Regions from separate parts of the Homo sapiens genome. Here region 2 is linked to region 1. The links come from fine-mapping of genetic effects on gene expression. A gene starts in region 1. The other region holds a variant in brackets. All regions are shown on one strand. Distances are from middle to middle.

Region 1 (15,585 bases):
TCTATGCAGGACACCCCACAGGGATGGAGGCTAGGCCAAGGCTTGGGCAGAAATTGGTCAGGGTACTCAGGTTGGATGGGGCAGAAGCTTCTTTTTCCTTCAGGAGGGAGACTCAGGTGCGCAGCAGTTAGAGCATCAAAGGGCAGCCCAGCAGGCGGGCAAGTGGGCACAGGTACACAAGGGTGGGGCAGGATAGCAGGTGACCCCCGGGTAACACTTTCTCCACAGGGCACTGCAATTAGCAATTAGCGCAGGCAATTAGCACCCACCTACCTGCTACCTTTCCCCCTTCTCCTGGGCCAGAAGAGGTGAAAACCACCCGTGGGAGCCTGGCTGGCCCTGTGCCACCCCACCCTGAGAAGTGAGGCTGGCACAAACAGACTCAGGCTGGCTCAAGGCCCAGCAGCCAGCTCAGCTCCCCTGCTTACCCCAGCAGCCTCTGCTCTTCCCAAATTTCTCACCCAATCCCTTTTTCCCAGGCCCATGGGAGCTGGCATCCCCAAAGAGCTGAAAGTGGGGGCTGCCTCCTGCTGGGCTGCCCCCTCCTCCATACAGCACTTTTGTGGGAAGTGGAGGATGGCATCCCTCTGGGCAAACCCCTCCTCCCATCGTGTGCTCACTTGCTGCAGTGCACAACCTGTGAAACTATACACAGTGGCCCTGCTGGCCTTCCTACAGCCCCCGTGTTTGTTAAAACCCCGTCTGACTCATCCCACCCAGAGTGGCCTGTCTTCTGGCCTTGTCTGCTCAGACAACTCTCCACTCTCATCCTCCCAAGTCCATGTGTCCCCTTTGTCCCTCTGGCCAAGGGTACTGTTTGTTCCAATCCTCTGCACATCTCTTCATGCGCCCAACTCTATCCACCTCTCCCAGGAAGCTCGGCTTGATGTTACCCCTGAGCTCTAACCACCCTGAGAACTGGGCCTGGGCCAGCCTGTCTGGGGGCTAAGTCTGGTCTCCGCAGACCACCTAGGTAATGCAGTCAGCAAGACACTAGGTGCCCAGAGCCCAGTTATGGCCTAGCCCCACCTGGACAGCCTCTGCCCTGCCCCCAGCCACGTGAGGCCCACCTGGATGTTGCGCTCGCAGTCTGTCTGCCTGTGCAGCAGCAGCTCGCTCTCCAGCAGGAAGCGCTTGCCGCACTGGTCGCAGATCTGCATGCGGCTGTGGGTCACATTCATGTGTTTCTCCAGGTACCAGCGGTTGTTGAAAACTCGTGGGCACTTCTGGCATGGATGGTGCTGCTTCTCCTCCAGCTTCACCTTGGCCCCCAGCCCATCAGTGGCTGGCGGCCCTCGGGCCGATGCAGAGGCCACTCCAGGGGGTGGCTTTGGCCTCTTCCCACCCCGCCGCCCAGCTTCTTCAGGTTCAGGGGTACCCCGGCGCCGGGCGTTCTCCCGGGACCGTGTGGCCATGTGACTGTGGGGAGGGGGGTCTGCCCGGCTGCTTCGGCTTCCCCGTGGCCCCTGCTTGCCCCCAGCCTCCCCCTCCTCCCCCTCCTCCTCCTCAGAGCTCTCTTGATCCTGCTCACTAGGCCCTTCCTCCTCTTCCTCCTCCTCTTCCTCTTCCTGCTCACTGTGCCCGTCCTCCTCCTCTTCTTCCTCTTCTCCCTGACTGCCACCCTCTTCCTCCTCCTCCTCCTCCCGTCCACTGCCACCACCTTCCTCTTCCTCTTCTTCCTCCTCCTCCTCCTCGTCGTCCTCCTCCTCCTCGTCCGAGTGTCTCTGCAGCCCGTCCTCCCGGCCCAGAACCACGGTGGCTGGGCTTGGCCCGGCACCTGGCTTCCCCTCTGGCCCCGTGGACACGTGCAGTGTCTGGTTGTTGAGGTTCACCTCCACGATGATCTGGGATTGCTCCCTGCGGCTGTAGGTGCCAGAACCCCCAAGCTCTTCCTCCAACTCTTCTCCACCCTCCAGCTTGCACAAGCTGGCTGGGGGCCCACCGGCCTCCTCGACACCACCCTCCTTCTCCTCCTTAAAGAAGGGCTGGGCTGGCCCAATGGTGGCAGGCACTGTGCCACCAGCAGTCCCTGCCCCGTCCTCAACACGCACCGAGTAAGGGTCAGGGCCCTCGCGGGCATAGATCTTGGGCAGGCCTGGGGTGTCGGCCTCCTGCTTGATGTCACAGTAGTAGGGCGGCGCAGCTGGAGTGCAGCTGGCAGCCGGCTGGGCCAGGGCCACAGTGCCCGGACCTGGTGGGCCTAGAGAGCGGGCGTCCAGCAGCTCTTGGCAGGACGCAGCGATGTCAGCCATCTGCAGCAATGAGGCGGCGCTGAGCACCTCGTGGACGTTGGCCGCGTTGACCAGCAGCTTGGACGTATAGATGAAGTTGAGGATCTGCTGCAGGCCACCAGGTGCCAGTGCCTCCAGGGACAGCTCCACACGCTGCAGCTGCTTGTTCTGGGTGAAGAGTGAGTGGAAGAACTGGCTGTAGGCGGCTAGCACACCCTTGTGTGCCGGAAAGACGCTGCGCTGGGGCACCAGCACCAAGTCCACGTCGCAGAGGTCAGGCTGGAAGAGGCGCTGCTCGTTCAGGCGGCCCATCAAGCAGGCAAAGTGCAGCGCCACGTCCTCCACCAGCGAGAACTCAGCCGCCGGGGAGTCAGTTGTCTTCTCAACCAGCAACTGCGGGGACAGAGGGCACAGGAGTGGGTCAAGGCCAGTGGGCCCCTGCCCGCCCTTCCCCCAGCACCACTCCCAGCATTGCCAGCCATCCAGGAGGCAGCCCATCACTCGTGGCTCCACTTTACAGCAACAGAGCCGAAACTAGCAAGGAAGGGATTCAAGCCTGAGTGAGCTGCCTCAGAGCTCAGGCTCCACTCGTGACCCTCTGAGGCTGAAGATCAGGTCCTGTCACTTTCTGGGCCTCTGGGTCATCTCCTGGGAAATGGGAAAAGTCATCCCAGGAAGGGAAAGGGAAGGAAAGGGGATGAAAGAGAGACCACAGTGACCAACCATCCAGGTTTGCCAGGGACCTGGGCATTTTCTGGGGTGCAGGGCTTTCAGTGCTAGAACCAGGACCATCGCAGGCACACCGGGACCAGGTGGTCACCCCAGGAGGGCCACAGGCATTCCTTCAGCATTTCCTCAGCCCCGTGGATTCTCTCCACATATTCACTCACACATACCAATAAAAGCAAGCTTGCCCAGCCCCAAACACCTCAAGAACAGAAGCCGGGCTCACTGCTCACTGCCCAGTCTCTGGCTACAGAATCCAAGGGGTAGCACCTGAGGGAACCCCTCATCGCAACAGCCATGTGGCTGCTGCAGAAGTTGAAACCTGTGAAGAAATCCAGGCTCAGGGCCTATACCTTCTCCCCACTCTGGTCCTGCTGCACTGCCTGGTGAGGTCTCCTCATCACAGCCAGGGCTTGGGCCAGGCTGCCCCCAACCCCTGCCTGCAGCCTCAGGCCTAGCCCCCAGCAGCTCTCTCTCACTCAGGGGCTCTGCAGGGGTGGAAGGACACAGCTGTGGAACCTGCCTACCATGCTTGCAGGCAGGAGGCCCCCAAGGCCTGCCCCAGATCCTTTTCCCGGTAGACCCCCAGACCCCAGGTCAGGTACGGTCCATGTCCACAGGCTCTGGGAAAGCCCTGCCTTAGAGGCCACACCATCTGGGGCTTCCAGAGCCCTAGCGGAGGCCCTCAATGTCTGATGGGTCAGACTATCAGGCCTGTGGGCCACATCCAGCACCTGTGAATTGCCTGGAATAGAAGCCAACTCAGTCACCCCGGCTCTACCACAGCAGCCTCCCCAAAAGGTGGGCAGCACAGACAGGCAGCCTGCCCAGTCCCTGCACGAGAACCATCACACAGTGATGTGCAGATGTTGTTAATATCCACCAACCACCAGCCCAGCTGGACCAGCACCACTGGTTCCAAGTTCTGGCTCTCCTCAGGGCCTGCCCAACCAGGTCTGAGCCTCCTGCATTCGGGAGGTACCTTGCCACAATATTTTGATGGCCACAAAACCATCAGCTCCATAGCTGTCAGTGCCTCCCTGGGGACCCTGGGATGAATCCTGGCCCCATCCATCCACAGCCTACCGCCCCCCTTCCCCATGCCAGGCCTTCCATCGCCAGGAGAGCAGTGGGTAGGCTGGGATTGGGCAGGGGTGGTGGTGGTTGAGCTCCACTTCTCAGTCACCTGAATGAGAAACCTACCGTGGGCCTCAGCAGGAGCCTCCCTGAGCCACCAGGGGCCACCTGTCTCCAGGCCTGCCCTGGACCCTGCCCCCTACACCCAGCAGCCAGGGCAGCAGCCATCCTGTGTTCCCTCACATCCCAGTCTGGCCAGGCCCCTGGCCAAGGCTACCATCTTCCTTGAGTTCTCCACTACACCCCTTACCCCAGCCAAGAAGCCATCCATCTCCCTCTGTCCCAGGCTGTCCAGGCCTGGCCAATCTAACTGGGACGTGGCACCAAGCCCCTCCCATCTCCCTCCTCTGACTCATTCTGATTCATCTTCTGGGACCAACCCCTACTACACAGATGGAGAAACCGAGGCTCAGAATGAGAGGGTTCCACAGTCCAGAGCCCCTGGACTCCCAGCTCCGCTAAGACCACCCCTTCCTTGCTAGACCCCACATGGCTGGATTTCTGAGCCTTTAATGACTTAAAAAGCGAGAACATCCCGCCACCTGGAGACCAGCCGTGCTTCCCCACACTCACCACTATCCCCTCTACCTGCTCCCTCCTCCCTAGAGCCACTGCACCTGCAGGTCAGTGAAGGATCAGGGTACAACTTGGGTTGCAACAGGGGCTCCTTAGGGCCTCCAGGGGCCAAAGACTGGCAGGAGAAGTGGCTTGGATAAGGGTTTGCTGAAGCCAGGCCTGTTGGGGGAAGTCCACCCCAGGCAACAGAGCCCCAGATCTCTCTGCTCTCCCTTTATGGAATGCCCTCCACTGCCCACCTGTGCCCACCTGCCACAGGGAAAGGGCAACCTTCCCATGTGCACTTTGGCCTCTAGGCCAAATGAGGCCTGACTTTGGCCCTCTGGCCTCTCAGCAGGAAAGGAGGGGAGTGCTTTCTCAAACACTCCATTGCTAAGGTAGTACTCTCAGCCAAGGCAGCACCATCCTTGGCCCTTGGGGGGCCCTAAACCTCATGACCTGATTGGACTCTCTTGACTGGGCACAGAGATGCTGCCCGAGTCCACAATTGGCAGCCCCTCAGCAGGGTTCAGCCACCCCCATGTCTGGCCCCTCCCACACAATGCCCACCAGCTGTGCTGGCCTCCACAGCCAGATGTGCTGGTTCCCGGAAGCAATGCGTGCCCCTCCCCATCCGGCTGTGCCAGCTGCAGTCCAGGTCACTCCAGCCTAGCTAAGATGCAGGACCAGGGAGGTGGTCAGGCACTCTGGTTGCCAGGGGGTTTCATGCCCTCAAACCCTTGCCCCAAGTCAGGCTGGGGATTGGCCAGGTGCCAGACATCTCTCCAGGCTGCTCACCCAAGTCAGAGCCTTCTACACCTGAGGGGTACCTTGCCTCACTGATGAGAAGCCTCATCTCTCTACCCTGCCTCAGAGCCTCCCTGGAAGGCCCCATGATGAAACCTGGGGAGTCCATCTGCGCCCCCCTCCCATGTCAATTCTTTCTATGCTGGGCAGCAGTGGGGGGGCCCAGACTGAGCAAGGGGGCACAGGCTCATGACCTCTAGGCTCCTCCTTTTGGTGAGGGAGTGTCCATGCCAGCCTCCTCTGTGCACTTACCTCCCCTCTTTCCCTTGGAAATAGACCCAGAGAGGGCGGGGGATCTGCCCAAGGTCACACAGGAGTTGGTACGGGAGCTCTGGGTGTCCTCCCACACCCCCTTGGCCCGGGTCATCCCGAATCCCCAGGCAGGGCGGCTCCAGCGCCCACGTGGCCCAAGGCCCAGGCGGGAATCCGACTCCCTCTTCCCCCCATTACCCAGCCCGAGGGCGGCGCCGTCCGGGCGCAGGGGAGCGCCCCCCTTCGCCGGTGCCTAGCAAGACCTCAGCCTCGCGCGCCGGCGCCCCCACCACAGGAATTTAACCCCCTCCCCACCGAGAGCAGCGCCACAGCGCCGCATTCCCGGCCCGCGGGACCCAGCAGATGGAGCCGGGAGACCGGGGGAGGGGGGAAGATCCCTCCAGCCCCTCCACCCGGGCCCGCGGGCCGTGTGCCTGGGAGGTCAGAGCTGGCAGGTGGGCGGATAAGCGGGGGGACAGGCAGGGCCCTGCGTACCATGGTGCCGTGGCGCTGGGGGCTCACAGGGCCCCGCGGGATCGCGCTGCCCCCGGCGGCCAGGCCAGGGCCGCTCCATGAAGCGCCGCGCTGGGGGCCGCCCCCGCGCAGGGCCCCGCGACCATGGCCCCCGGGGGCGCGGCCAGGCAGGCGGAGGCGCAGGGCCGCGGCGAGTCCAGCGCCAAGCAGCTGCGGCCCCAGAGCCTCGGGCGCGGCGGGCGGGGGGCGCGGGGCGCCGATTGGAGCCCGCGCGTCAGCTGGGGCCGCCGTCTGGACGCTTAAAGGGCCAGGCCGCCTGCGTGCCGGCGGGGGGCGCGGACACGCGTGGTGTGCGCGGTCCCCGTGCAGCCCGCCCTGCCGCAGGCTGCCCTCCACCCCCAGCCCCAGCTCCAGCCCCCAGCCCGTCCCCACTGCTCATATCCGAGCAGATAGACCCCGGCCCCACCCTCCCGTGCTGAGCCTCCTTTCTGCCGGGAAGTTCGTCCGGGAGTCAAACATCGCTGCCCTCCGGTTGCGCCACGGAGGGGGAGCCAGGATAGGAAGCTGCCGTGAAATCAGGAAGCTGAGCGCGCCGGGCCCCGGATCCGAACAGAAAAGGCTTCCACCCGCTCCCCTGAGGGATCCCACGCTGAGGGACTGAACCCCGCACCCCAGCCGCGCTCACCACCCCCACCCTCTCGCCTGGGCTGCTCTGACCTGGGGGTGAGTCTGGGGTCCCCAACTGGTCCAGTCCCCCATCCCTATCCCAGGGCGGCGCAGGGCTCATTTTGCTCTGTGCCTCCAGGACTTGGCTCCAGTGGACCCATACCTACCTGGCGGCCTCATGCTGCATAGGGCCACCCAGGGCAGGAGATTTAAATCCCAGGACTACAACCGCAGCGATCAAATCATCTAAGGTGACTGGCCCAGGGCCAGGAGACAGAGGGACCAGAGGAGTAGGGACCAGAGGCCCAGGCCCCACTGTGCCCCTCTAGCCGTGTGACCTGACCACTGCTGAGTGGCCCCCTTGCTCAGCCTCTGCTGGGGAGATGCAGCCAGGCTTGCGGAATGCTGCTCTGGCATGGACACCCGTGGGGGCAGGGGGCTGGCTCTGTTGGCAGGAGGCTGTAAAGGAAGGCTGCCAGGCTGAGCAGGCAGCAGGGTGGGGACCACGGGGCACTAGACCTGGCAAGGTCTGGATGGTGACTGGGCCACCATTGTAGAGGAGAGGCCTCTGTGGACATCCCCTCCTCCTACCCCAAGCTCACTACTGCCCATCCTGGGTCACTCTCATGTTGCCCCCATCCTGATATTCCACACCCCTCCCCACATATGTGCGCTTGTGTTTACATACAAGTCCATGTCCAGCTGCAGCAGTATCTCCTGGGTATGTTGTCCTACTCACGAGTGGGCAGGAACTCTGGCGCTGGCTCAGGGTGACTTGGTTCTAGGTGCCAGAGGAGAAATGGAGGAGAGACCAGGGTATTAGGCAGGTGCTGTGAAACAGCCTGATGGTCTGTCCTGTAAGATTGCAAGGGCCTCCTCCCCCACCCCCACTCTCTGCCAGAATACGTAGGGCCTCAGGATAAGGCTATCCCAGAGCTAGGGAGAAAATGTCTCAGGGGCCAAACCTGGGGCATCTGGAAGCCCCTGGCAGCTGCTGCAGACATCCTGTACCTGCATGGGTGCACAGACAGCTGGCCCAGCTCCCAGAGGCCCCAGGTTAAGGCCAGGCCAGAGCAGCTTACATGCTTCTGACCAGCTAGCCCGCTGAGGGCTGCCTTCTGCCTCTTCCTCCCCAGCCCACTTCCTCATCTGACTCACAGTGGATCCTAGCACCGGCCCAGGAGTTAGTTAGGGAGGGGCTGTGTGCCCATTGGTTGGATAAGGACTCTGAGGCTCAGAGCGGGACAAATCACTTAGGCATCAGCATCAGGAGCCAGGGGAAGGGGAGGTGGGGAGAAGGGACCCCTCCACGGGCTGGAAGAAGCCTGGCAGAGAGAGCTGCATGGGACATTGCTAGGCCCACTGCCAAGCCAAAGCTTGACAGAGGGTGTGGCCAGCGTGACTGAGGTAGTGATGCTGGCCCTATGGGGCCTTGCTGGGGCCTTAGCTCCAGCAGTCAAGCTGCAGAAAGGGCTGGAGGTTGGGTGAGAAGGGAGGGGACAGGTGGTGGGGAGGCACTCAGTCTCCCTGAAGGCCTCGGCTGTTCCCCTCTTGCTTCTCTGGCCTGCAGCTCATCAGCTGGGGAGTCCCAGGGCAGAGCCTGAGCTCTGTGAGCAGCTGTGGGCACCTGGCAACACTGGACCTGGCAGGAAGGAGTGGTTTGAAGAGCTGTCTGGTGGGCCCACAGGGCTGCTCAGAGCTGAGGCTTGAACTTGAACATTAACTAGAGCAATGAGGGAGTGAAAGGGCTTTCCAGACAGAAAGCCTGCAAAGGCCAGGAGGTGGAGACAATTTAGCATCTGCAGGGAACTAGAGGGGATTTGGTGTAGTGGAGTCAAGATTCCTATCGATCAGGAGTTGTCTGGTTGGTGGGAGTGAACAGGTGGAGCTAGGCAGAGGCAGAATTTCTCTCTTGGTCCTGATGAGGGGCATGCAGTAGGAGCTTCACTTCAGGGAGGTCAAGGCAGGCTTTCTGGAGGGAGGGACTGAGTTATTGGGGAGTTGACTCCTGGGCCAGAAATGCATGCCCCAGGGGTGAGTCAGGAGTCTGGAGACGCTCACCCAGCAAGGGCAGAGCTTAGTGATCCTTCACATATTTGGGATTGGGTCCTGACAAGGTCAGCAAAGCTATGCCCCTGCCTCTAGAAGACAGCTCATGGGTTTTCTCTCAATTTCCCTAAGTATCTACCCTCAGTGCTGGAGTGTCCCCAGGCTTAGTTGGGGAAACCAGATTCAACCCCACTGAAGTTAGAAAGAACAGCCCAGGTTGTGGGTATGCGTATGTGTGTGGGAACAATGCAGGACTGAGTCAGCCCGGAGGGCATGGAGCTGTGTGTAGCTGAGCCTGGGGAAGAGGGAGAGCAGAGTGGGCAATGCCAGAAAAATACAGGCAATGCAACTCAACTCGCACAGCATGTGGCCAGTGGGCTGGCAGGGAAGTTCAAAGCTACCCACTAGGCGCTGATCCGAAGCCCAAAGTTCTAGTAGGGCGGGAAAACATGAATCCCCAGGGTGTGGGGTGGGTTAAGGGTGGAGTTTACACCTGAATTCTGCCTCCACTGAACCCAGCACTAATAGGCTACAGCTGCCCTGGGTTGGGGGCCTCATGCAAACCGGTAGGTTGCCTGGTTCCCTCACAGCATAAACATCATGGCTTTGGCATTTCACGTCTCTCTTGCAGCTTCTAGGATCCTCTCCTGCCCTGTTGGTTCTGGGGGCCTTGGGCCTCTCCCTAGTGAGTGAACCTGGCTCCACACATGAACCCTCTGGGACTCCTTCACTTCTCCTAGAGTCACCACCTCAGGGGCCACCACCTCTGAACCACTGATGTATGCTTGGTTTTCTAAACGTTTAATACACCACAGTTCTAGGAGGAGGAATCCCTAGCATCCATTTTTCAGATGAGCTGAATTATAGAGGTCAAGCAAATTGTCCTCCTTCCAGTTACCCAACTGGGAAGTGGCAGAGTTGAACTTGAACCCAAGCAGCCTGGTTCTGGCCCAGAGACCTTAACGATTGTACCATAGCATAGTTGCTCATAGAAGTCCCCCTGCTTCTTCAAAATAAAACCAAATTAGGCTGGAGGCATTGAGGTCAGTGGGGACTCTTCTTAGGCTTTCTCTGGGAACCTGGCCTGATGGGAGATTTTAGTTGCTAGAGGTCCTAGGTGACCAGAGGCTGGTGAAGTGCCAGCCTATACACCCAACCCCTGTGGGCCAGGTCCACTGGGAGGCAGACTCGTCTGCAGGCTGGGAAGGGATGAGCACCCCTGGTTGTCTCTCATGTCTGAGTGTGCCAGTCATGTATACCCTCTTTCAGGGGTTTATGAGCCATAGGAGGCCCAGGATCAGGGCTCAAGATGCAGAATGCAGGTGTTTGTCCTGAGACCTCAGGTCACTCCATTTGTTGTTTCTCAGACAGGGTCTTGCTTTGTTGCCCAAGCTGGGCAGAGATGCAATCATGGCTCACTGTAGTCTCCACCTCCTAGGCTCAAGTGATCCTCCCACCTCAGCCCTCTGAGTAGCTGGGACTACAGGTGTGCATCAGCATGCCCAGCTGCTTTTTGTTCTGTTCTTGTCTTAATAGTCTTGCTATGTTGTCCAGACTGGTCTTGAACTCTTGGCCTCAAGCAATCCTCCTGCCTAGGCCTCCTAAAGCACTAGAAATATAGGTGGCCACTCCTTTTACCCTGATGTCCTCAAGGCTCTGGGCTGAAGAGATGCAACCCTCTCCAAGCTAGCCTGGGTTCTGCAGGCTGTGAAGCTCAGCTCAGTCTAGGGAGCTGGAGTTTGATGGGCTATAGTAAGTGGTGGGTCTGGGGTCTCCAAGAGGCAGCAGGCCTACCTGGGGCCTTCTGATTCACAGTGAGGAGTGGAGGCAGCAGCAAGGGAGCACTATCTCTACCTTGTACTGAAACTTTGAAAGAAAACAGACCACTAAAGCCTCCTAGCCCTGTGTGTATGTGGCCAGGGCAGGCTCTCCTTGCCTTGCACTTACCAGGCCCCGACAAGCTTCCCAGTCTGTCCTGAGATGAACAGGTGTTCTTTCAGGGTACCCAGCGTCCTCCCCTGACACCTCTGGACTCCTGAGGGGCCTTTACTGCATCAAAGAACTTCTCCCTGCTGTCTTCCCAGCTCATTCTACCACAAGGCCCTCATGGGCCTGCAGGCTCTTGCCTCACTGTGGGGAACAGCAGACTTGATTCTCTGTTCCAAAAACCAGAGTTCTCCGGAAATCTGAACCCAGTCCGTTTCACCTTGTGAGGCATGGCTTCCACATCCTTTCACCTGACCACATTAGTTTGCAACACTCCTTCAAGGCTCAGCATTTGCCTTGAAAAACTGAGTAGAGCCTCTTTTTTTTTTTCCAGTGGAGACGGGATTTCACCATGTTGGCCAGGCTGGTCTCAAACTCCTGACCTCAAGTGATCCACCCGCCTTGGCCTCCCAAAGTGCTGGGATTACAGGCGTGAGCCACCATGCCTGGCCACCTCCCGTCTCTTCTAAACAGTGATGCCCAGTTAGTGTCCATAATCTCTTGCAAGAGGGGCATTTTCCTTGAATTACCTTCCCGCCTATTTAATGCCCAGCTAATTCAGAAGAGTCAAGACCAAAGTCCTTGGCACATTTTCCCCCCAATACTGCCCAACTATCAAGTTTACCACTATCAGAACTTGATCCTGCATTTTCTTTACATTTTAAAGGAATGCATCCAGATTTGACAAATTTCAGGAGTTGCCCAACTAAGGAGTCCACTGTTAACTCAGTTTAAAAACTGAGTATCTGCAGTGAGAAGTTAACTACAATAAGTTATGTTGTATTCACTAAGAAAATAGACATTCCTTTCAGTTCTGAGGAGACAAAAGTTAATTGTACTTCCCCTGCAAATTCTTATGTGTATACTAAAAATATCACCATGAATGTTTTCTCTGGGAGTGAGTGACATGTGCTGCACTGCCTAGTGCGCTGCCGTTAGGGAGGGAAATGTAGAGGCTGTAGGTAAATGGACTGTCTCTAGGTAGAAACTCACACATGGGATGTGACATATTCCTCCCTCAGCAAAGACATCTTTATGCAGGTCATTTTAACTAGATGACAACAAAGTGTAGAGGAAATCTGGATTTTCCAGGGGAGGAAGACCAAACATCATTAATGCTTACCTGTGTAGGTTAAAATCTCTGCCTGACATTCTCTCTAGCTCCACCTCCTACACCCACCACTAACACTCAGCTAGGAGAAGAAAAGGAGCTGCCAAAGGAGATGAGGTGTCTTCACTGGCTGGGTCAGCAGAAAGATAAAACATGAACAGACTCAGACTTAGACTAAGTATATATTTTAATTTCTACAAGGTCCCCTTTCAAGTTTTAGGGAAATTTAACTGAAGTGTATACAAATTAGACATTGCTAATATGTACAAAAGTATTTTATACAGTTTTTGAACGATACTAGCTATTTGCAATAAACAGGATGTTACAAAAACAGTCCAATAATGCATTTCCTATTAAGAAGCACAATACACAACATAATTCAATTTTATTAAAAAATAACTTCAAAATGTAGAACAATCCCCTTTAGGAAGAAAAGCTATTTCTGTAGTTCACTCTGTCAGTAAACACACAAGTTGAACGCTGCAGCAGAGGGCTGTCCTTTTCCATGGAGAAAAGAAATGAGGCTTCTAGGGCCTATCTTTTCTGGGTAAAAATTCCACCTACAGCTGAGATGGGCAGTTATTGCCTGTGGTAGGCAGAATTTGAAAATGCCCCTCCCACTTTCAATGAGCTAATCTCCAGAACCCGTGAATATGATGAGATGAGACAGTACTCCTGCAATTATGTTCTATCGCACAATCAACCTTAAAATATATCTGTGGGCTTGAGCTAATCATATGCCCCTAAAACAGGAGGACGGGAGAGAGATATGAAGCATGAGAAAGAGCAGGAAGGCTGGTTTGAAGCTGGAGGGGACCACATAAGAAGGAATGCAGGCAGCCTTGAGGTGAGAGAGGGGCCTCCAGCTGAGAGCCAGCAAAGAACTGAATTCCGCCAACAACCTGAATGAACTTAGAAGCAGATTCTTCCCCAGAGCCTCCATGAAGGAATGTTGTCCTGCCAACCCTTATTTCAGCCTTTAAGACCCTGAGCAGAGAATCCAGCCACACTGTGCCAGACTCATGAGCTACAGAACTGCTATGGGTATTGTTTTTTAAACTGCTAAATTTGGGGTAATTTGTCACACAGCAATAGAAAACTAATACACTGCCCAAGGGTAACTTTTCTTAACCTAATTACATTTGGCAGTTTCTGCTTGGGTTCTGAATGCATTTTTTTCCTGCTGACTAGTAGTAATATTCTCCTTTGCAGGCAACCTTTGGAAACCTTTAATATAAATCATACTGTTTTGTATTCAGTATCCAGTATTGTTTGTTTGGCCTAAGTCCTGTTTTCTAATGTACTTTCTGTCTATTGACCTGGCAAACAACTGACCACCTTACCCTGTTTTCATACCTTCTTTGGGTGATAGTTTTAATACATTCAAGGGCACCCTCCCTCCACCAAGGGTTGTCAGCTCCCTCCAACTGAGGGCTCTTTTCCACTTCCCAAATACACCAGACAAGGCCTGTGGTAGGGTGGTGCTGAGCTCTACATCAGGCAACCAATATGAATTTCTTCTGCATAACTGGATTAAACTGGCACTAAGGTGATTAAGTACACTTGGGGAACAAATTCAAAGTAAAGATTAAAAAAAAAAACCACACACACACACACACACACACACACACACACACTAGTTTTTACAGGTCCAATTATTTTTGGAGGAACCACCCAAAGCCATGAAAATATGTAATTTATGCTATACCCTCTATCCCTCTTCCCCTGTCTCTTGCACCTGGGTCAGGTCACGCAAGGCTTTGAGTCAGCTGCAGGTCACAGTGGAAATAGGAAAAACATGCTGGTTACAACAGTTCAGCTGCTGTTGTGGTAATATCCTGTACTTGAAAGACTTGAAAGGAAAGCCCTGCAAAATGTCTCCAGGATGGTGGCAGTTAGATTTTTGATGTTACTTTTGAAGTCCATTCTTCACTCTTCCAGAGGCACACACACACAGTAGACTTGAGTGGCCAATATCTCTTACTGCCAATCCTGCCTGCTCCAGGGGACCCCAACCCACATCTGTACTTGAGAGAAGCCCCCCAAATAGTCAAAGTGAAGACAGCTCAGAATAAACCATTTTTGGTGCCAGTGATTTTGTCTGAATTTCATTTTTATGGTATTTTAATATATGATATATAAGAGTAATGCTTAAAGACGCACCAAAAATTACCAAGCACCAAAGCATGAAGTAGAATTGTTTTTATAACCTAAACTTCTGATCGGTATTGATTAAAAAGAACATAAAATAGTAAGTCCTCAGAGACAGTGCAGGTATTTATAGTTAAGGCTGATTGATTCTTCCTAACCTTGCCCACAAGCCTGAAGTAATACAGACTGTGTGGGATGTATGATGACCACTTTCCTAATCCTGTGAAGTATCAAAGAAGTTAGGAATGAATTAAGAACCCCAGAGCCACTGCCTTATACTCCTGGTTACCAACAGTATCAATTCTGGGTGGTTTGTTTTTAGAGCACATATGTACAAGACTCTATGTAATCAGTATATAAATATTTGGCCGCCTTTAACAGTTCTCCTTCACAGTTCTATGCTTGGCAGCATATATGCTAAAACTGGAAAAACAGGCAAAAAGAATCTGTATTCTAAGGGATACGTAAGATAGAGTGAAATAGACTTAAAATAATATTGCAAATTATACATAGATAAATTTCACGATTTCTTGATTCAAGAAAATGAAATTCATTTCCATAGTTGGCTACTGTAAAATGTGGCATAAAAATATTTTTAGGAGACATATCTGTATTTTAAATTCTTCTCCCCACATGTAAATGAACCAGTAACAATTAAGAAGTGTCTATTTTTGAAATTCACCTCTGATATTGAAATAGAACAACAGACTGTCATTACATTTCTTAAGCTAAGTTGCCAGATATTTACAAATAAGATATAATTTGTATCCGGACGTTTTCAACTGTATCTGCTGCTCTCACTGGGGCTCCGGTGATGAGAGTAACTTCGGTCACTTTCACTGTCAGAGCCATAAGATCTACAACTCCTGTAATAACAAAACAAAATATATAAAAATCTTGTAACTGTAAAATCTTTGAATTCCTCTTATAGCTTGTTTTTTATATGAGTGGCTTGAAAACATCAATAGTGTTTTCAAGCCACTCATATAACTGATGCACTATTGATGCAGCATAACACAGAGGTAGGGTACTGACTATGGCAACACCATGGACTTTTCTTTTTCTTTTTGAGATGGAGTTTCACTCTTTTTGCCCAGGTTGGAGTGCAACGGCATGCTCTCAACTCACTGCAACCTCCACCTCCCGGGTTCAAGTGATTCTCCTGCCTCAGCCTCCCTAGTAGCTGCAATTACAGGTGCCCGCCACCACGCCCAGCTAATTTTTTTTATTTAGTAGAGACGGGGTTTCACTATGTTGGCCAGGCTGGTCTTCAACTCCTGACCTCAGACGATCCACCTGCCTCAGCCTCCCAAAGTGCTGGGATTACAGGCGTGAGCCACCGTGCCCGACTCACACTATGGACTTTTTGAAGCTGTTTTAAATGACAAGTTGTAGTAATGTCAAGATTAAGATAAAATAAAGAAACATCACATCTTAGGA
Region 2 (15,585 bases), 110 kb before region 1:
CTCAGGAGCCCAGCTAGGTTCACCCAGTGGATCCTGCACCAGGGCCCCAGGCGGAGGTGCCGGCCAGTCCCGCTGTGTGCCCGCACTCCTCAGCCCTTGGGCTTTTGATGGGACCAGGTGCTGCGGAGCAGGGGGTGGCGCTCGTTGGGGAGGCTGGGGCGCGCAGGAGCCCACGGTGGCAGGGGGAGGCTCAGGCATGGCGGGCTGCCGGTCCCCAGCCCTGCCCTGCGGGGAGGCAGCTAAGGCCCCGTGAGAAATTGAGCACAGCAGCTGCTGGCCCAGGTGCTAAGCTCCTCACTGCCAGGGGCTTGCGGCCAGCCGGCTGCTTGGAGTGTGGGCCTGCGGAGCCCACACCCACCCAGAACCCTCACTGGCCGGCAAGCGCTGCGCGCAGCCCCAGTTCTCACCGGCACCTCTCACTCCACACCTGCCTGCAAGCTGAGGGAGCCAGCTCCGGCCTTGGCCAGCCCAGAGAGGGTCTCCCACAGTGCAGCAGCAGGCTGAAGGGCTCCTCAAGCACCGCCAGAGTGGGCGCCAAGGCCGAGGAGGTGCCCAGAGTGAGCGAGGGCTGCGAGGGCTGCCAGCATGCTGTCACCTCTCACTATGAACATTTCATGTGCAGGTTTTTGTGTGGATATATTGTTAAACTCATTTAGGTAAATATGATCACTGGATCATATGGCAAGACTGTTTAGCTTTGAAAAAGACTACCCAATTGTCTTGCAAAGTGGCTTTTCCATTTTGCATCCCCACCAGCAATAAATAGAAATTCTTGTTGCTTCACATTCTTGCCATCATTTGATGTTGTCAATGTTTTGGATTCTAGCCATTCTAATAGGTATGTAATGGTATCTCATTTTTGTTTTAATTTGCAATTTCCTGATTACATATGATGCTGAACATCTTTTCATATGTCTATTTGCCATCCATATTTCTTTTTTGTTGAGGAGTTTGTTCAGATCTTTTGCCCACTTTTCTTTTTTTTCTTTTTTTGAAACGGCGTTTCACTCTTGTTGCCCAGACTGGAGTGCAATGGCATGATCTCGGCTCACTGCAACCTCCACCTCCCAGGTTCAAGCAATTCTCCTGCCTCAGCCTCCTGAGTAGCTGGGATTACAGGCTCCTGCCACCACGCCCAGCTAATTTTTATATTTTTAGTCGACACAGGGTTTAACCATGTTGGCCAGACTGGTCTGGAACTCCCAACCTCAGGTGATCCACCCACCTCAGCCTCCCAAAGTGCTGGGATTACAGGCATGAGCCACCATGCCCGGCCTTGCCCACTTTTTAACTGGGGTATTTTCTTATTATTAAGTTATCAGAATTCTTTGTATATGTTGGATGTAGTCCTTTGTCAAATATGTGTCTGGCAGGTTTTCTTCCAGTCTCTATGGCTTCTCTTTTCTTTCATTTTCTTGTTTTTTATTTTTTTTTATTTTTTGAGTCTTTCTCTGTAGCCCAGGCTGGAGTGCAGTGGAGTGATCTCAGCTTACTGCAACCTCCACCTCCCGGGTTCAAGCGATTCTCCTGCCTCAGCCTTCCGAGTAGCTGGGACTGCAGGTGCACACCAACATGCCCAGCTAATTTTTTTATTTTCAGTAGAGACAGGGTTTCACCATGTTGGCCAGGCTGGTCTCAAACTCCTGACCTCAGGTGATCCGCCTGCCTCAGCCTCCTAAAGTGCTGGGATTACAGGCATGAGCCACCATTCCCGGCCTCTTTTCATTTTCTTAACAGTATCTTTCACAGAGTAGAAGTTTATAATTTTAATGAAGTTGAATTTATCAATTTTTTTTGTTTCATGTATCATGCTTTTGGTATTATATATGAAAACTCATAGCCAAACCCAAGGTCAGCTAGATTTTCTCCTGTATTACCTTCTAGAAGTTTTGCAGTTTACATTTCAGTATATAACCCATTTTGAGTTAATATTTGTGACAGGGATGAGGTCTGTGTCTAGATTCACTTTTTTACATATGGATATTCGTTGTTCCAGCACCATTGCCTTTGTTTCTTTGTCAAGGATCAGTTGACTCTATTTATGTGGATCTATTTCTGGGCTCTTTATTTGGTTTCATTGATTCATTTGTCTGTTTCTTCACCAATACCACACTGTCTTAATTACTATCATTTTATAGTAAGTCTTTTTTTTTTTTTGAGATGGAGTTTTGCTCCTGTTGGCCAGGCTGGAGTGCAATGTCACGATCTCAGCTCACTGCAACCTCTGCCTCCTGGGTTCAAGCGATTCTCCTGCCTCAGCCTCCCAGGTAGCTGGGATTACAGGTGCCCACCACCACACCTGGCAATTTTTGTATTTTTAGTAGAGACGGGGTTTTACCACATTTGCCAGGGTGGTCTTGAACTCCTGACCTCAGGTGATCCACCCACCCGCCTCGGCCTCCCAAAGTGCTGGGATTACAGGTGTGAGCCACCACGCCTAGCCTAGTAAGTCTTAAGGTCAGGTAGTGTCAGTTTTCCACCTTTGTTCTTTTTTAATATTGTGTTGGATATTCTGGATCTTTTGCCTCTCCACATAAACTTTGGAATCAATTTGTCGATATCCATACAGTAATTTGCTGGGATTTCTTTATTGCAATTGCATTGAATCTATAGATCAAGTTGGGAAGAACTGACATCTTAACAATATTCATTCTTCCTATTCATGTGCATGAGATAACTATTTGTTTAGTTCTTGATTTTATCAGAGTTTTATAGTTTATAGTCTTTTCCCAGAGTTTTATATTTCTCCTAATATAGATCTTACACATATTTTGTAAGATTTATACCTAAGTATTTCAATGTTTGTGTTAATATAAATGGCATTGCATTTTTAACTTGAGCTTTCCATTGCTTATTGCTAGTATGTGGGAAAACATTTGACTTCTGTGTATTAACCTTACTTCTTGCAACCTTGCTGCAATCACTTATAAGTTCCAGGAGTTTTTTTGTTCTTTTTTTTTTTAATAGATTCTTTGAGATTTTCTGCATAGACAATCAGTCATCTGCAACCAAGGCAATTTTATTTCTTCCTTTCCAAAATATATATCTTTTATTTCCTTTTCTTGGCTTATTCCATTAGGTAGAACTTCTAGTATGATGTTGAAAGAGAGTAGAGAGAAGGGACATCTTGTCATGTTCCCAGTCTTAGGGGTAAAGCGTGTAGTTTCTCACTGCTAAGTATGGTGGTAGCTGTATGTTTTTTGTAGATGTTCTTAATCAAATTGAAGAAGTTCCCCTCTATTCCTAGTTTACTTAGAGCTTTTATCATGAATGAGCATTGGATTTTGTCAAATGCTTTTTCTGTGTCTACTAATATGATTGTGTGACTTTTCTCCTTTAGCCTGTTGATGTGATAGGTTTATGTTAATTGATTTTCTAATGTTAAACCAGCCTTGCATACCTAAAGTAACTCCTATTTGGTCATGTGGTATAATTTTTCAAATACATCATTGGATTCAATTTGCTAATATTCTTGGAGAGGAAGTTTGTTTGTTTGGTTGGTTGGTTGTTTTTTTTTTTTTTT[C/TTC]TTTGAGACAGGATCTCGCTCTTTTCCCCGGTCTGGAGTGCAGTGGTGCAATCATGGCTCACTGCAGTGAGAGGAAGATCTGAGAATTACCTCCCCTCCTTTCACTTGACTGGCCCATCAAACTCTTTCTTTGCTGCAAAACTCGCTGTTTTTAGTGCATTGGTTTTCTGAACAGCAGGCAAGATGAACCCGTCAGGCTGTTACTTGCTTCCAGCTGTCTCTTCTTCCTCTTCCCTCTCCTTCCCTCTCTCCCACCTCCTCACTCTACACCTTCTCCTCATGCTGCTTTGTTCATACTCTAGGTCTCAACTACCTGAGGCTCCAGCTCAGACTTCCCTTCTGAACCCCAGACCCACCCAGCATCTCAGCCAGCCAGCTGCCCACCCAGCATCTCAAAGTCCACCACCTTGTCTGCAGCGTGGAAAACTGCTCCTCTGTCAGGGCCTGCTGTCTCCCCAGTCACTCAAACCCAAACCGCCTAGGTTTCTCCCCTCTCCTTCTCTGCATAGTTGCCTTCAGTCCCTTCCATTTGGCAGCAATTCCTCTTCCCCCTCCTCCATCTCCACTGCTACAGTTTTGATTTAGGCCCACATGGCTTCCCAGAGACCCCCTCCTAGCTAGGCCCTTTGCCTCCAGCTCTGCAGAAGGCAAAGCTGATCCTGTGTGCACCCTCTGAACATCTCCAGCGCCTCAGGATAAAGTCCAGGCTCCTTAGCTGGGCAGATCAGACCCTTCTTCTGGTGCCTCCCCAAATGTGCCCTGCCCTCTGGCCATTCTGAACCTTTCATAGTTCCCCACACTCATCACATTCTCTGCACATGCTGTTCTGGCAGGAGAGCCCGTTGCCCCCCACTCAGGCACCGTCCCTTCCCCACCCAGGTGAATTTCTTCTGCATTCAGCTTCAAATTGACTGAGATGCCTGTCTCTCCTGCAGCTTCTCTCTCCCCAGACAGCCTCTCAGAGTGCTTAACACCTCTCATTCTCAAACCAGCTGAACGTTAGGCTCACCTGGGAAGCTTTAAAAATACAAAAATGTTAGCTGGGCGTAGTGGTGCATGCCTGTAGTCCCAGCTACTCGGGAGGCTGAGGCAGGAGAATCGCTTGAACCCAGGAGATGGAGGTTGCTGTGAGCCGAGATCGTGCCATTGCACTCCAGCCTGGGCAACGAGAGTGAAACTCCATCTCAAAAAAATAAAAATAAAAATAGACACCCTGGCCACAGCCCAGATAATTAATTTCAAATCTCCACTGGCCTCATGAATAGCACAGATTAGATACTAATACTCTGGGGGCCGGTCTGGACCACAGGTGTCCTCTCAGTGCAGGCATTACTGTCTATCCCAGAGGCTCCGTTGGGCCAAGAGCACCACTTTTCATACAGTGATAATGATAATTATTTCCATGCATTCTTCCACTTAATCTCACAAACTCCCTGTGAAGTTCGTAAGTATCAGAGTCCCATTTTACAAATGGGAAACGAAAGCAAAGAGGTTAAGTAATTTGCCTGGGGCACAGTGTACATTCAATGAGTACCAGTTCCTCAGTGACTTCAAGTGCAAATTGGGAGTAGAAAAGGAGAAAAGCTTTACAAGTTACTGTGTTCATTCATTCAGTGACAATTCTACAAATGACAGTTGAAGGCCTGTTCTGGGCAAGATGTTGAGATTTAGCAAATGAATAAGGTATTAGGACCCCTGCCCTTAAGAGGTCTCTTTGTAAAGGGAAGTAATGTAAATAAAATAATAGATAATTATAATACACTGAGGTTAAGTTTAGTGATCAAGGGGTGCCCTAGGGATTCTGGGAGTCCACAGAGTGCCCTGAGGGGAATCCTAGAGGCTAACTGGGAGTTAGTGGGAAGGTAAAGGGCTGGGATGGGGAGGCCTGGGAGGAAGGCCTCCCAGGTAGAGGAGTGGCTGAAGCCAGCCTCTGAGATGCCACTGGGCTTAATCCACAGCAGGAGCCACAAACCCAAAACATCTGCTGTGGCTGATGGGAAATAAAAGTGAATCCAGCAGGTTTAAGAGAAAGAACAACATTTATGTGCAGTGATAATGGGCAGCTGATGTGCCAGCTGCAGCATCTGGAGGTGGCAGGGACAGTGGTTTAATGGAAAGAACCTATTATGCACCAAAGGAACTCTCTGCATAGCAGCTGCTGTCCGTGTGGGACGATGGGCCCAGCATTGCCAGATCTGTAAACTTTTATAAAAGAAGCTGGTGTAAACTAAACATAAAATTCAGAGGCCCCCCATCCATCTGAATGGACTTCCTTCTCAGCCAGGGCACTCCAAAGTTAACCTGAAAGACCAGTTCAGGCCTTGATGGGAAGCAAGGGTTGGACACGCCTCATTATACCCTCCTCCCTTTTGGAATTCAGGAAAAGTTGACCAACATTTAACATCAACACAGACCTTAAGTCTGATAAGAAACATTTACAATCTATTCTCTCTGAAGCCTGCTACCTGGAGGCTTCATTTGCATGATCAAAACTTTTATCTCTTTTATTCTAACCCAGATATTCCTTTCTATTTATAGTAACTCTTTTAACCAATTACCAATCAGAAAAATTTTAAATCTACTTATCACCTGGAAGCTCCCCCCTCCCAACCTTGGAGTTGTCCTGCTTTTCTGGACCAAATCGGTATATATCTTAAATGTATTTGATTGATGTCTCAGGTCTGCCTGAAATGTATAAAACCAAGCTGTGCCCTGACCACCTTGGGCACGTGGTCTCAGGATCTCCTGAGGGCTGTGTCACAGGCCATGATCACTCACATTTGGCTCAGAATAAATCTCTTCAGACTGGGTGCAGTGGCTCACACCTGTGATCCCAGCACTTTGGGAGGCTGAGGTGGGTGGATCACTTGAGATCAGGAGTTCAAGACCAGCCTGGCCAACATGGTGAAACCATGTCTCTACAAAAACATACAAAAATTATCTGGGTGTGGTGGTGCATGCCTGTAGTCCCAGCAACTCAGAAGGCTGAGGCAGGAGAATTGCTTGAGCCCAGGAGGCAGAGGTTGCAGTGAGCCAAGATTGTGCCACTGCGCTCCAGCCTGGGTGACAGAGCGAGACTTCATCTAAAAAAAAAAAAAAAAAAAAGTACATCTCTTCAAATATTTTACAGAGTTTGACTGTTTTTGTTGACACTGGAAATCTGATATTGAAACTACAATTCTTTGAATGTTGGCAACAAATTCAAATCCTAACATAGTGTTCTGTAAGAGCCAAACAAAAATGTCTGTGGGATGTGTTAAACTAACTGTAGCCTAAAGCTGCCTTCTTATATATTCTAAGTTCAGCCTAAAGGTTTCTCTGTACGTAGTAAACTGTAACCTGACTAGGAATTTAAACAGACTGCAATCTACTCTTGTACCAGTCACAGAGTTTCAGCCAATCACAGGCAGCCAGCTATTCAAATTGTATTCAAAAAAGGCAAACAGCCAGCTGTAATCAGTCTAGCTGTTTCTGTACCTCACTTGTGCTTTCTGTTCATCACTTTCCTTTTTCTGTTCATAAATCTTTTTCGACTAGGTGGCAGCCCTGGAGTCACTCTGAATCTGTTCTGGTTCTGGGGGCTGCTAGATTTGTGAATCATTCTTTGCTCAGTTGAATTCTGTTAAATTTGATTTGTTTAAAGTTTTTCTTTTTTTATTTTGGAGACAGGGTCTGACTGTCACCCAGGTTAGAGTGCAGTGGCGCGATCACAGCTCATTGTAGTCTCAACCTCCTGGGCTCAAGCTGTGCTTCCACCTTGGCCTTCCAAAGTGCTGGGATTACAGGTGTGAGCCATCATGCCTGGCCTAACGTTTATCTTTTAACAAAGGATATAGCCTTTGGGCCAGCTATTATACTCACATGTATTGTTTATTACAATGAAAGAATACGGGTCAAAATCAGCAAAGAGACACATAGGGCAGAGTCCAGGAGACACCAGGTGCAAGCTTCCAGTTGTCTTCTCCCAGTGGAGTCATGTTGACAGTACTTACTTCTCCCAGAAACAATTCGTGGCAACTTACATGGAGTACTGCCAGCCAGGGAAGCTCCCCTGAGTCTTGGTGTCCAGGGTTTTTATTAGGAGATGGTTACGTAGGTACAGTTGACCTTAGTCACTCGATCTCCAGCCCCCTCCAGCCTACCCTGCACCTGGCAATGAATCACATTGTTAATTAACATGGACTGGAATGGCCCAAGGTCCCCAGGTGAAGAAAAACACTCTCATCAGGAAGGATGGTCCAAGGGCTCAGAGATTCTCTCTTAGGAGCGGGTCAAAGGCCAAACATGTTTTTTGGAATGTGCGGGTGTGCACAATACAGGTTTTCAGAGTTAATTCTTTATAGTTCCTCTTACTGGGCAGAGCTGCCTGGTAAGGAATTTCAACATAACACCAGCTTCTGCTTTTGTTTGACCTTTGCCAAACCCTGGGCTCAGCCCACAGCACATTAAAACCAGCTGGGCAGCAGTTAAACCATCCCATGCTTGGTCTCCACTCCAGACTAATTTAAATCAGATTCTCTAGGGGTGGGCCTGGTTATCAGCATTTTTAGATTGTATCCTGGGGATTTGGTATTGAAGCAAGTTTAAGAGTAACTGGGTACAGGCTCTGGGACCACCCCTGTGTGTGAGATGGAGATAAGTATATTAAGAAGGTACAGATAGAGCAGTTGAAGCTGTTTGGGTAGGTAGAGTATTCCTCCTGGCGGGTCAGAAAAGGACCATGGTATTCATGCTGGGTGTAGGAGGACCAGCAAGATTTAAGCCTTGGGGGGAGAAGGAGGTATAGGAACAGAGGAGCAAGTCAACACAACTAGCTAGAAGTTAGCATTATGAAAGGGAAAACAGGCTAGAAGGACACAGAGGCCAAATCCAAAGCGCTTAATGCCATTGGACTTGGCTTTGTGGCTAAGGGGCATCTGCTGAAGCTTTTTGCACAGGAGTCTGTCAGGCTCAGAGCTGTGGTTTAGAGAAACTTGTCCCTCAGCAAATGTTATTCATTTGTTCAGCAAGTATTCATTCCATGCCTGCCATATACCAGGCCCTGCTACAGGCACTGAGGATACAGCAATGAACAACACAGTGCCTGCCATTGTGAAGCTGGTGGGGAGGGAGAGAGGCAGTCAACAAGTAAACAAATCAAAATATAATGTGTCAGATGACTCTCAGTGCCATGGAGGAAGACAAAACAGGGCAAGGGCATGGGGAGCGAGGGCAGGGATGCCTTCTACAATAGGATATGAGGAGACCTCTGTGATAAGGTGACATTTGAGAGGAAGTAGGTAAGGTAGATGTCTGGGGGAAGGACATTCCTGGAGAGGTAACAGCAAGTGCAGATACCCCAAGGTGGTTATGAGCCTGGTATCAGTGGGAATGGAGACATGGGGGCAGATTTTAGGACATTTATGGAAAATAAACAAGATTTATGATTAATTGGATGATAGGTAGATGATGTGGCTTGAGGTTGGTTTAAGGCAGGGATGCTTACCACTGGCTACACTTTAAAATCGTGAGGGGAGCATTTAATAATTCCAGTGTCTGTGCTCTATTATTTCATTTATGTGAAGTTCAAACAGACAAAGTATCAAGAATGTACAAGAAACTGATCATTCAGTAACAGTGAGTGATTGTATTGTGACTGTAAATTGTATTGTCTAATACAATTTAAAAATGGGCAAAAAATGTGAATAGACACATCACAAAAGAAGATATACACATGGTCAACAAGCACATGAAAAGATGCTCAACATAACTAGTCAACAGAGAAATACAAATTAAAAACACATTGAGATACCATTTTATTTTTATTTTATTTTAATTAATTAATTTATTTATATTTTATTTATTTATTTATTTTGAGACAGAGTCTTGCTCTGTCACCCAGGTTGGAATGCAATGGCGCAATCTTGGCTCACTGCAACCTCGGCCAGGCTGGAGTGCCATGGCGCAATCTTGGCTCACTGCAACCTCGCCCAGGCTGGAGTGCCATGGCGCAATCTTGGCTCACTGCAACCTCGCCCAGGCTGGAGTGCAATGGCTCAATCTTGACTCACTGCAACCTCTGCCTCCCAGGTTCAAGTGATTCTCCTGCCTTAGCCTCCTGAGTAACTGGGATTACAGGCCTGTGTCACCACACCCAGCTAATTTTTGTATTTTTAGTAGAGATGGGGTTTCTCCATTTTGGCCAGACTTGTCTCAAACTTCTGAACTCCGGTGATCCACCCACCTCAGCCTCCCAAAGTGTTGGGATTACAGGCATGAGCCACTGTGCCCTGCCTATTTATTTATTTATTTATTTATTTATTTATTTATTTATTTAGAGACAAGAATTTTGCTCTTGTTGCCCAGGCTGGAGTGCAATGGCATGATCTCAGCTCACTGCAACCTCTGCCTCCTGGGTTCAAGCAATTCTCCTGACTCAACCTCCCGAGTAGCAGGGATTACAGGCACATGTCACCACGCCTGGCTAATTTTGTATTTTTAGTAGAGATGGGGTTTCATCATGTTGGTCAGGCTAGTCTCGAATTCCTGACCTCAGTTTATCCACCCACCTCGGCCTCCTAGAGGGATGGGATTACAGGGATGAGCCACCATGCCCGGCTGAGATACCATTTTACATACTAATGAGAAAGTCTAAAATTTAGACTGACTAGCCTAAATGCTGACGAGGATGGCGCAACTGGGACTCCCATTGCTAGTAAGAATGTAAAATGGTACAACCACTCTGGCAAACAGTTTAGCAGTTTCTTATGAAGTTAAACATAAATTACCATATAAGCCAGAATTTTCACTTCTATGTATTTACCCAAGAGAAATAAAAACATACATTCACACAAATACCTTCTTATACATGAATGTTCATAACGGCTTTATTCATAATAGCCAAAACTGGAAACAGCTCAGATGTCCAATAACAAGTGAATGTATAATCAAATTCTTGTTTATTTAAACAAGGTAATATTACTCAGTAATAAAAACGAATGAGCTTATAATGTGTGCAATGACATTGATGAATCTCAAAAAGGTAGTGCTGAGCAAAAAAGAAGCCAGACACAAAAGGCTAACGACTGTATGATTCTAGTTATATGAAATTCCAGAAAAGGCAAAACTGTAGTGAACAAAAGCAGACCAGAGTTTGCCTGGGATTGGGATTGGGATTGGCTGGAAATTGACTGCAAAAGGGCACAAAGGAGGATTTTGGGGTGATGAAAATGTTCTTTCACGATGGTGGAGGTGGTTTACACAAGTGAATATATTTGTCAAAACTCATTTGTACACATAAAATTTGTGTTTTTTTTTTTTTTGGAGACAGGGTCTCACTGTTACTCACAATGGAATATAGTGGCACAATCATGGCTCACTGCAGCCTCCACTTCCTGGGCTCAAGCGATCTTGCCACCTCAGCCTCCTAAGTAGCTGGGACTACAGGCATGCACCACCACAACCAATTTTTTGTAGAGATGGGGTTTTGCCATGTTATACAGGCTGGTCTCAAACTCCTGGTCTCAAGCAGTCTACTCACCTTGGCCTCCCAAAGTGCTGTGATTGCAAGGCATGAGCCACTGCACCCAACCTGGTGGATTTTATTGTACATAAATTATTCTTTGATAGACTGACTAAAAAGAAACCAGACAAAATTAATCTTAGGTGGTAGCGGTCAGAATAATGGTTACCTTGGGGGATGATTCACTGGAAGGGGCACAAAGTAGCCTGCTCAGGGACCGTAAGTGCCCTGTACCTTGATCTGGGTGGTCACCACAGAGGTATATGTCTATGGAAAGATTCACTGAGCCGTATGGTCAGGATTTATGTACTTTATTGCATGTGAATTATACCTGAATTTAAAAAGAAAAAGAAGAAATGATGGCCAAGCCCTGTTCCTAGAAACTGGGATTTAGCTGGTCTGGAAATGGTCCCAGGCATTGTTATTTAGGAGTTCCTAGGGGATTTCAATGTTCAACCAGAGTTGAGAACCATTGATTTAAGGGACAGGCAAGAGTCAAGTGTTGAGTCTGAGTGATGGAGACTATTCTGATGCCATGTGCAATCTGGTGGCATGTTCAGGAACTGGGGAGGATGCTCAGTTCAACCTTGGGTTTCTAGTGATCTGAGGTGAGGGTGGAGCTTCCAAGCTTCTGCGTGGACATACATGCAACGCGAAGCAGTAAACTCCAAGGCTGGGGCTGCAGACAGGGCGGACTGTGTGCTGAGCGCTCGGTGTGGAGTTTGCTTCAGCTGAGGCTTCATTTCTGATGCCTAGGGCAGGATGGCAGCAGATGAAAGCTCACAGAACACTTTGCGGCTCCAGTTCAAGGCAATGCAGGAGATGCAGCACAAACGGTTACAGAAGCAGATGGAGAAAAAGAGGGAAAAAGAACTGAGCCTCAAAAGCAGAGCTGACGACCAAGAGGAGCCCTTGGAGGTTTCAGATGGCCTCAGCCTTCTCCACGCAGGGGAGCCAAACTCGAAAAATAGCTTTGAGAAGAGGTAAATGCAAGTTTGAAATCTCTCAGGGGTGTGTGTGTGTGTGTGTGTGTGTGTGTGTGTGTACCACCGGAGCTATAGCAAAACTTGTAAAATGCAGCTAAAGTGATAGAAGGAAGCTTAGAGCCTTAATTATAGCTGCATTTAACAAGTTTTGATACAGCTTCTGTGGTCAATCCATTCTAAATGCTTTATAATACATATTATGATTTCTTCTTAACCCATAAATAATTTAGGAGTATAGGGTGTTTTTCTAGTTCCAAGCATATGATGAGTTTTGGGTTTTCTTGTTTTATTTCTATTTTTTATTATTGATTTCTAAAACAGTCACTTGCCATTAGAGAAAATAGTCTGTATAATGTTATTATTTAGAATTTGCTAAGATTCCCTTTATAACCTATAATACTTTTTTTTAAGAGACAGAGTCTTGTACTGTCACCCGGGCTGGAATGCAGGATGATAGCTCACTGCAGCCTCAAGCTCCTGGGTTCAAGCAATCCTTCCACCTCAGCTTCTAGAGTCACTGGGATTACACGTGTACACCACCATGCCTGGCTAATTTTGTTTTCTTTTATTTTTAGAGACAGGGTCTTTCTTTGTTGCCTAGGCTAGTCACAAACTCCTGCCTTGGCTTCCCAAAGTGCTGGGATTAGAGGCATGAGCCACCACACCCAGCCCTGTAATATATTTTTATGCATGTTCCATGGATGCTTAAAAGAAATATGAATTATGAGTGGGTTTTTTTATAACTCCCTATTTAAGCCAGCTAATGAACGACATTGAAATCTTTCTTCTTTCACGTCAGTGTGTCTGCATCTGCGTGTCCATCTGTCCACCTAGGCAGTGGAGGCCTGACCCCTGCCCACCAGGGCCTTTGCCTTGGAGGAGCATTAATTCTGCCTTTGCCTTGTAGGGTGCTTGAAGATGAGATTGAACACCTTCGAAATGAGCTCAGGGAAACGGTGGACGAGAACGGGCGATTGTATAAGCTGCTGAAGGAAAGGGACTTTGAAATCAAACACCTCAAAAAGAAAATAGAAGAGGACAGATTTGCCTTCACAGGTAGCTCCACCATTGTTGTGATAGTCCTTGCCCTGCAGTCCAGGGACTTCAGATAGGGCAGACAGCAGGTTCCAGAGAGCAGATTCCCAAGAGAGTGCCAAGGGTCAGTTGTGATCAAGCTTGTCCAGAGGAGTCCTGGAAGTGAGGGAGAGGGTAGAGGAAAAGAGCAGCCCCAGGGAGGCCAGCCCACCAGAAAATGGGAGCACAGGGAGCAATGAGGGATTTAAAAATGGGCCAGAAGGGCCAGCAGGCAAGCATCATAGGCAATGTTGGTGATCCAGCTGGGACTCATGACAAGGGTTTGCCATCATGCTCGCAGCATGTAAAGGGGCTGGCAGGATCCATTTCTCCTTGGTGCACTGGCTCACATGTTATGTTGTGAACATAAAAAAGGCCCAGCAGCCTGCAGTGAGCTATGATCACCCCCACTGCACTGAACCCTGGGCAACAGAGATCCTGTCTTGAAAAAAAAAAAAGCCCCAGTAGAGCCAGGTATGAACTCTACAGCACCTGCTGTTGCTGCTCCAGAAAGGTAGATGAGTCACCTGTTCTAGGAGGATATCATGGGACCCAACCACCAACAAGGTGTGGGCTGGGTCTTGGCCCTGTAAGTCTGGGCTAGACCTTGGCTGTGTTGGTGGAGACCTCATGGTGGCCCCATGAGTCTGGTGAGGACCTTGGCTTTGCAGGTCTGGGAATGACCTTTGATCATGGTTGTGAGCTGGACATTGGCTCTGTGGTTATGAGTTTGACTTTTGCCCTGCTGATGTAGTGAGGACTTTGGACTTGATTGTCCTGTGTTATGTATATACCCATTGAGCAATTCGCAGATGGCTAATAAATAAGAAAGTATTATAGATGTCACCAATCACGGAGAGCAACAGGGCTGACTCAGCATCTACCAGACTATTGTCCTTGCCTTTGAGAGTAAATGCGTTTGAGGATAGGTACGTTCATAGGACCAAAGCTCTGGTCAGTCAATGCTGAATTACAAAGCAAGGGGAATTTGGTATCCTAAAGACTCATGGTAGCCTAATGCACCTCCCTCCATTCTTTGGCCTTTTCTGTCTGAAACAAAAAACACAAAGCCTGGCTAAGGAAGCCTACACTCAGCCTGGTTACAGATTCAGCTGTGGAAGGGGCCACTTGCACTTTTGCAAGGCTGTAGAGAAGCTGATGGGCTCCAGGGGGAGCAGGAGATACATCTCCACCCAGCAGACCTGGGAAGCAGATCTGGGGTTACTCCCTCTTCCCCAGCCCCTCTCATTGTTAACTGTCTCTTGCAAGCTTTGCCAAAGCCCAGACTTGGTTGTGGCCTCATCTGACTGCCAGCCCTAAGCGTCCCTGAAAACCACTTAAATCCAGTCTTCACTCTGAAGTCACCATTTCTGATTTTCATTCTCACGTTTTGGAGAGAAAATCTGACAAGCCCATTTATGTTTTTAATTTTTTTCTTTTTGAGACAGAGTCTTGCTCTGTTGCCCAGATTAGAGTGCAGTGGCACGATCTTGGCTCACCACAACCTCCACTTCCTGGGTTCAAGTGATTCTCCTGCCTCAGCCTCCTGAGTAGCTGGGATTACAGGTGTGTGCCACCACACCCAGCTAATTTTTGTATTTTTAGTAGAGACAGGGTTTCACCATGTTGGCTAGTCTGGTCTCGAACTGCTGACCTTGTGATCTGCCCGCCTCGGACTCCCAAAGTCCTGGGATTACAGGTGTGAGCCACCGCGACTGGCCTCCATTTATGTTTTTAAACTGAGCTGCAAGTGACAGGCTACTGAGAGTTGATAGATCGGTTTCTTTTGGCTGGATTTTTAGTGATTCCTTTGGGTTTTGTTTGCTTACTATATTTTTCGTACAGTTTTTTAGTGATCTAGTGATTACAAAATATTTATTACCTTTTCATAGTCTACGTAGAACTAATATTTTACCACTTCAAATGGAATGTAGAAACTTTACCACCATTCAGGTCCCTTTACCTCTCCCTTTCTATTGCAGTTTTTATATGTATTATATCTATATATATTGAAAATCCCATCAGTCAATGTTATACTTTTTGCTCAACTATTATATGTATTTTAAAGAACCCAAAGGGAAAACTATTCTATTTAGCCAGATAGTTAGCATTTCTGTGTTTGCCCATCCACTGCCGCCCCCATTTATCAAGGGGTTGCAGCTTCAACAGTAGAGCTTGCCTGGAGACAGGGTTGGGAAAGAATAGGAAAAAAAAATACCCAGAGGATTTTTTCCATTCTGTCTGAGCCCCACTTCCTGCTCTTTGGACTAGAAAGACCTTCTCTTGAACCTCTTTCTGATAGCCAGTTCCAGAATTTGTGCTGATTTGAGTCCTGGGAGGAAACGTACCACTGGACCATTTGTAATTCTAGGTCCGGTTTCCTTCCCCAATATGCTTGCTACCATTTATGTCCGGAACCCTCAGGTAGCTGCTTCACACATCCTATCCAGGGCTTTTGGTTGTATTCAGCAAAAGAGACAGGGTAGAGTGCGCTTACTCCA

The links. PIP is the estimated chance that this variant, and not a neighbour inherited with it, causes the effect.
Region 2: its variant is fine-mapped to the expression of ZBTB47 in whole blood (INTERVAL, PIP above 0.99).

What each region holds. Positions count from the first base shown.
Region 1 is chr3:42,645,314-42,660,898 of GRCh38, reverse strand. It overlaps ZBTB47 (zinc finger and BTB domain containing 47), which reads right to left and starts at 7,202. Exons shown (of 6, transcript NM_145166.4): 1 at 7,016-7,202; 2 at 1,071-2,624. The coding sequence starts at 2,543. It overlaps ZBTB47-AS1 (ZBTB47 and NKTR antisense RNA 1), which reads left to right and starts at 6,511. Exons shown (of 3, transcript NR_125400.1): 1 at 6,511-6,905. NKTR (natural killer cell triggering receptor) reads right to left here. Exons shown (of 17, transcript NM_005385.4): 17 at 12,164-15,011. The coding sequence ends at 14,924. RefSeq lists enhancers at 1-655, 656-1,566, 4,228-4,522, 6,587-7,228 and silencers at 6,102-6,181, 6,222-6,581.
Region 2 is chr3:42,754,547-42,770,131 of GRCh38, reverse strand. It overlaps CCDC13 (coiled-coil domain containing 13), which reads left to right. Exons shown (of 16, transcript NM_144719.4): 2 at 11,781-12,007; 3 at 12,918-13,066. The coding sequence starts at 11,787. Among named protein-coding and RNA genes, the nearest start is that of CCDC13-AS2, 8.3 kb to the left of the region's middle. The variant C/TTC (reference allele first, on the strand shown) is at 3,524.